Linked DNA regions of Homo sapiens: region 2 is linked to region 1. A link means that fine-mapping ties the variant in region 1 to the plasma level of a protein whose gene starts in the linked region. Region 1 holds a variant in brackets. A gene starts in the other region. All regions are shown on their reverse strands.

Region 1 (2,908 bases):
GGTAAGGCCAAAGTCTCCTTTAGGAGGTTTTCTCCAAACCCCTGAAGTTTTCTCAGAGGAAACCCATGTTAACATTTTGGTGCACAGCTTTCTAAAGCTTTATCTACATCTTTATATACATGTTTGGGTACCTTGGTATGTATATGTTTTAACATAAATCAAATAATTTCATCTCTCATTATTATATCACTTGGACTTTTTCTTGAAATTATGTACAAATATACCTCTTTCTTTTAACTGATTATTAGTATTGATTAATGGAGATATATCATGGTTTATTTCACCATTCCTCTACTGATAAATTGTTGTCATCTCTTTTTTTCTCCTACTGTAAAAAGAATCTTGTATGTGGCTCCTTGTGCAAACAAATGTGTGTGTTTCTCAGGTGTGCAGACTGAGAGGTGGGATTACTATGCTTGCTTCTGCTTGTAAACTCCAGGGATAGGAAATTCACTTGTACCTGAAGAAGCACCTGTCCTCCCCTCCTCTTCCCTACCCCCATGGTCTGAGTGAGCTGAGAGCCTTGAACCCCGTAGTCCTGGATCGATGCTCTCTGTGGCACAAGTCTCGTCTGTTTTCTCTTCAGATTTGATAGTCATTTCCATTCTGGCAGCTCCTACTGAGGGCAGGTAGTGAAGAACAGTAGATTCATGAGAAACCAAGAAGATAGCGCTAGGTAGGTCAGATCTCAACAGGAAAGCTAATAAAGCCTGTATTGACTTATAATGACTGTAGATAGTCCCTCTGCCAGTTTTCCATTCCTCCCCAGCCCCTTCATCACTGAGGATGACCCAGAATTGCAGAATCTTGCCTATACTTTTCGGGGTGCAGGAGAATTTAAAGCCATTCTTTGCAGCCACTGAATTTTAAATACGGAGATGAGGCTTTCTGTGGGGAGTCTTCCTGACGTTGGGTAAGTAATTTACTATTGAGGCACCTGTTTCAAATCACCTGTTAGAGGGTGTGATGATATCTGCTCTACTTAGCTATTGAGGTTGTTGAAGAGATGAAATGAGATCATAAAGGTGAAATCTTAAGTGCAGGCTTAAGGGGCGACTATGGGATAGCATTTAAGATGTGTGCTCCAGAAGCAGAAGGGTTCATCTCAAACTCTCTTGAGGTGAAACTGTGTGAAGTTAGGGCAATTTGAGCTCTGGGCAGAAGGGAGCACTCTTGCACTGTCTCTAGATTGTCTTCACCAGTTGGGAGGAGGGGATGCATTTTTGTCTCTATTGTCCAGTATAGTCCTTGGGTCACTGTGGGGATGGTGAGTTACCTTTTATCCATTAGCTGGGACTGGCCATTTCATGATTCCTCAAAATGCAAAGCATCCTGGCCCAGCTGACTTTGCCAGTGTTTTTTTCCAGGGCGGATAGGAGCTGAACACC[G/A]TGGCTCAAGTGGCAAATGAAGAGTCCAGCACAACAAACAGCCATCATATGGTGCAAATAGCAGGAGAGACCCCATTGCCACCTGATTTCTGCATGATCTATTTGTGGTGGCATGAGGCACTACAGGAGAGGTACCCTGCTGCCTTCCAGCAGTAATGGAAGAGATTATGTGGACTATGTGTTCTAGGAAATAAACTTTTAAGACTCCAGCTGGCTCGGCAATAATATAGGTGGTTCTAACGACACTGCTTAGTTATGGGAAACCATCACTGAAGAAATGGGCCCATTTAGTATCATCTCCCATCTTGTCATGAATATCAGAAGCCTGGAAGACAGGGATAAAAAAATGGGTGAAACATGTTTGGCATCTGGAGTTTCTGGAAAGTGCAGCCAAACCTCTTCGCTATGCTTTGTGTTGGTTCTGGGCTGATTAAAGTTATCCACATTGTACCTCTTTCTTGCTACTGCTTTTAACTTTTTATTTTGACAAAATTTCAGACTTTTTAAAACATTGGCAGAATAGTACAAGGAGTTTCCCTCGTGTTAATAATTTACCAACTTTACTTAATTTAATATATATGTACCATCTATTATATATGCCATATATTTTTATATGATACCATATATTTTCATATAATGCCATATTTTTTCCTGAATTATTTGAAATGTATAGACATAATGTTCTTTATCCCTAAAGACTTCGATGTGTACTTTCTGAAAATGCATTTTGTTACATAAGCACTATTGTTAATCATCAAAACTGGGAAATTAACATTAATACAAAACTATTACCTAATCTACAGACCTCAGTTGAATTTCACCAATTGTTCCAGTTTTATGCTATATGGTAAAAGAAAACACTGGATCACACATTGACTTTATTAGTGTCTCATCTTTTTAAATCTGGAACAGTTTTCTGTCTTTTATGACAATGACATTTTAGAAAAGTACTGGTGAGATTTTTGCAGAATGTTTCTTAATCTGAGATTCTCCAGTATCTCCTCATGGTTAGATTCAGGTCATACATTTTCAGCTGGAATATCATAGAAGTGATGTTATGTCCTTTTTCATTCATTATTATCAGGCTGCACATGATGTCAATTTCCCTCATTATTAGTGATGTTGACTTTATTTGGTGAAGATGGTGTCTGCCAGTTACAGTAAATGCTGCCGTAAAGGCGTTTTCCAACCTTTCCCTTTGTAATTAATAAGTATCTTAAGAGGTACTTTATTATGTGAAATTTCTGTTACTCCTCATACTTTAAGCTACTAGTTTTATCATCATTGATGATTCTTATCCTGAATTGATTACTATTTTGAAGTTTGCCAAATTGTTGTTTTCTATTTCCATCATCCTTTCCACGTTCGTTTGTTAGCTTTTTGCTGTAAGGAGATTTCCCTACTTCCACATTTATTTACTTAAAGGACCTCTCCACAATGGTTCAAATCCTTGAGCACACCTAATATGAGATCGCGATCAGGTGCTAACATTGTGCTTTGTCATTTATAAAGAATGTTAA
Region 2 (2,908 bases), not on the chromosome of region 1:
CCCCATCCCAGGTCTGTAGACTCCCCTCCCCTCCCCTCCCTTCCTCCACAGGGTGTGTGAACCAGCACCAAGCGGCACCCCACAATTTCCACACACATCCCTATAGGTAGGGACTAGCACCATCCCTGTTTTGTGACAGGAACACTGAGGCTCAGAGAGGTGCATTCCTTTGTCCGAGATCACTCCCAGAGCCCCAGTGTACCCGACTCCAGATGCATAGTACTGAACCGGTTCCAGACACCAGTGTGTCACTGGGCTGGGAGGTGGGCAGCGTGGAGGGAGCATATAGGGCAGGGGAGACCACCGGGCGGAGAGGATGGCCCAGGGAGCACCCAGCTGAGGAAAGCAAGAAAGACTTGGCGGGAAACCCCAGCCCTCTCTCATCTCATACCCCGGCCCCGAAGGCGGCTGAGACCCTTGACGAGCGGACGGAGAAAAGCCAAAAGCCGGCGGTGGGGAGCAGGAGGGACAGAGCGGGAGACCACAGGCGAAAGACCAGCGCCGTCGGGGGAGCCAGGCTGAGTACCTTCCTGGGCACAGATGGGACGGCGCGGGGCCACCGGCGGTGCTGGTTCCGGGCGCACTCAGCGACCCCGGCCACACACCCCAGCCTCCTGGGCGGCCTCGAAAGGGGCTGGAGGGCACGCCCGCCAGCTCTGCCCGGGGCTCAGGGAGTCTTCGAAGACTTCTTCCAACGGTGGCGGACTGGGGCCCCCTGCCTGAGAGACCACCCGGAGACTCAGAGACAGAGAGACAAAGGGAGACTGGGTCAGGGAGAGAGAAGGCTAGTGCCGAGGAGAGTAGGTGCGAGCCGGGACCCCAGAGGGCGGCGAGGGCGCGCGCGAGGCCGAGTGTCAGAGCGTGGAAAAGTGGGCGTCCAGCGGTAGGTGGACGGATGGGGAGCCCGGGAGCAGAGCCAGGGTCCGTGGGCAGACGCGGCGAGGAGAGGAGGCGGCGGAAGGACTGGCGGATAGACGGGTCCGAGGGCTGGGAAGGAGGCAGCATCCTCACTTCCAGCCTCGGGACCCCGCGCACCCCGCCCCTGGGCGCGCCAGGTAGCCCACCTTTGTCCGGGCTCGCAGCCAGGTGGGGCGGGAGGGGCGGAGCCAGGGGCGGGCCGAGGCCGTGCCTTACCTGTCCGGCCGGCGGGTAGGGGGAGGAGGGGCTCGGGGCCGAGCGCCCGCGGGAGCCGAGCGCAGCCGAGGGCGAGCCGCGGAACGGGGCCGGCGTGGAGAGGTGCGCGGGCAGCCGGAGGATGTGCCCGGGCTGAGCGGGACTGGAAGGAAGGGGGAGTGGGCGGGCAGGAGGGAAGGGGGCGGGAGCGCGGGGAGGGGACAGAGGAGGGGCGGCGGGTGGCGGGCTCGACTGCCCCCAGCCGAGGGGCAGCCCCGGGGCCGGGCCCGGCGCGCACCCGGCCAGCGCGCCCTCGCCAGCTGCGCTCTGAGTTCTGGGCCAGCTCCCCAGAGGCCTAGGCGCCGCCGCCGCGAGGGCGCGGGGCAGACAAAGGAGGCAGACAAAGGCGGGCGCAGCCCAGCAGCCGTGCGGGCACCGGGCGAGGCAGGCCCACTCCTCCCGGTGCGTAAGAGCCGCCTCGGCGCGGCCCAGGGCGCGTGGGACGGGAGGGGCTCCGGCAGTTGTGGCGCCTCTGGAGCGGCCCCGCGCAGGGCGGGCGACAAAGGGCCGCGGCGGGCGGTCCTCGGTGGACCCCAACAATGGAGCGAGGCTGCGCGCTCAGCTGCGGCCGCGTCTGTCAGGGCAGGGGCCCGGGGCCACAAAAGGATTATTCCGCCTAGACTGTCAAAAGGGACGGAAGAAATGCCCAGGGCGGGGGAGGCGGGACGGGGAACGGCGGGGCCTTTGTAGCCGCAGAAAGTGCGCAGAGTGGGCAGGCGGGGTTCTCCGAGAGGTCGCTCCTGGATGTAGGGGTACAAAGGGTCTTCAAAGTGCTACCAGCTCACCTGGGGCGCTGACGGCGCACCTGTGCCCTCTTTCCCGGTAGGGAAGGGAGAAAGACAACCGCCCCAATACACACACACACAAACACACACACACACACACTCACACGCGGCGCGGCTCTCGCCACGCCCCGTCCAAAGCCGGCCTGAAGCTTCTCAGACCGGCCCAACCCGGACAAAGCCAGCGCTGGGGCCGGCTCATCCATCACCGCGCGGGGCGCCGTGTCCTGACGACCCTGGGAGTCTGAGAATGCTGGGTTATGGGTCCCGTGCCTCCCATAACTCACGACGGGGTCGGTGGGGCCACGGACGCTGCAAAGATCAAAGAGCGATGGGGCCGGACTCCCATATGTGGGAAGCAGCGCTCCCACCTGGCGCCCTGAGCTCGCCAGGTGGCTTCCATTTCGACTGTTTTCTTTCTCCAGCGTGTGGCAAATTATGACTTTGAGGTTTTAGAACACAGTTCTGCCGTCAGGCTAAATGTCTGTGTTCCTCTTCTGATGCCGTCCCCTATGACCTCGAGCAAGTCGCCTGACCTCTGAGCTCATGATTATACCTAAATTTCAGTGTTCTAGGCGTGAATGCAGTGCCCTGTGTAAGGAGATAACGTTTCTAAGGTCTGGCCCATAGGAAATGCTCCTGTAAAATTAGCTGCCATTGTTACCGTGATATTATTAGCTTGGTGGGCACCAGGATGGATTGATGAGAACACTGAACTGTTTATTCACTGAAAGGTTTGAGTCATCCATCCCATAAATACCTATTGAACACCTACTATGTGCCGGCACCGGAGGTACAGTAGTAAACAACATGGACAAGAATCCCTGCCCCCATGGAGCTCAGATTCTAGTGAAGGAGACAGAAGATAAGTGAACAAATAAATATAAATGATGTCAGGTGGTGATTAGTGCTATGAAGAAAAGTAAAGCACATTACAGACAAAGCATGAAGGG

Which allele goes with the higher level. Positions count from the first base shown, and alleles are read on the strand shown. Strength reflects both the effect of a copy and how common the allele is.
For the plasma level of the protein whose gene starts at base 1,278 in region 2, G is the high allele of the variant in region 1 and A is the other (weak association).

What was found. A credible set is the group of variants that fine-mapping cannot tell apart. PIP is the posterior inclusion probability: the model's chance that the variant is causal. The UK Biobank Pharma Proteomics Project read protein levels with antibody pairs (Olink). The fine-mapping took linkage between variants from a reference panel, not from the people measured, so its PIPs are less certain.
Region 2: DRAXIN starts here. The variant in region 1 is the best candidate, but not a certain one, in a credible set for the plasma level of the DRAXIN protein (UK Biobank, PIP 0.61).

What each region holds. Positions count from the first base shown.
Region 1 is chr8:129,585,482-129,588,389 of GRCh38, reverse strand. All of the region lies in intron 1 of CCDC26 (CCDC26 long non-coding RNA), which reads left to right. Among named protein-coding and RNA genes, the nearest start is that of CCDC26, 93 kb to the left of the region's middle. RefSeq lists an enhancer at 467-1,666. The variant G/A (reference allele first, on the strand shown) is at 1,389.
Region 2 is chr1:11,690,080-11,692,987 of GRCh38, reverse strand. It overlaps DRAXIN (dorsal inhibitory axon guidance protein), which reads right to left and starts at 1,278. Exons shown (of 7, transcript NM_198545.4): 1 at 1,135-1,278. It also overlaps a transcript of MAD2L2 not described here. RefSeq lists enhancers at 1,963-2,470, 2,471-2,908.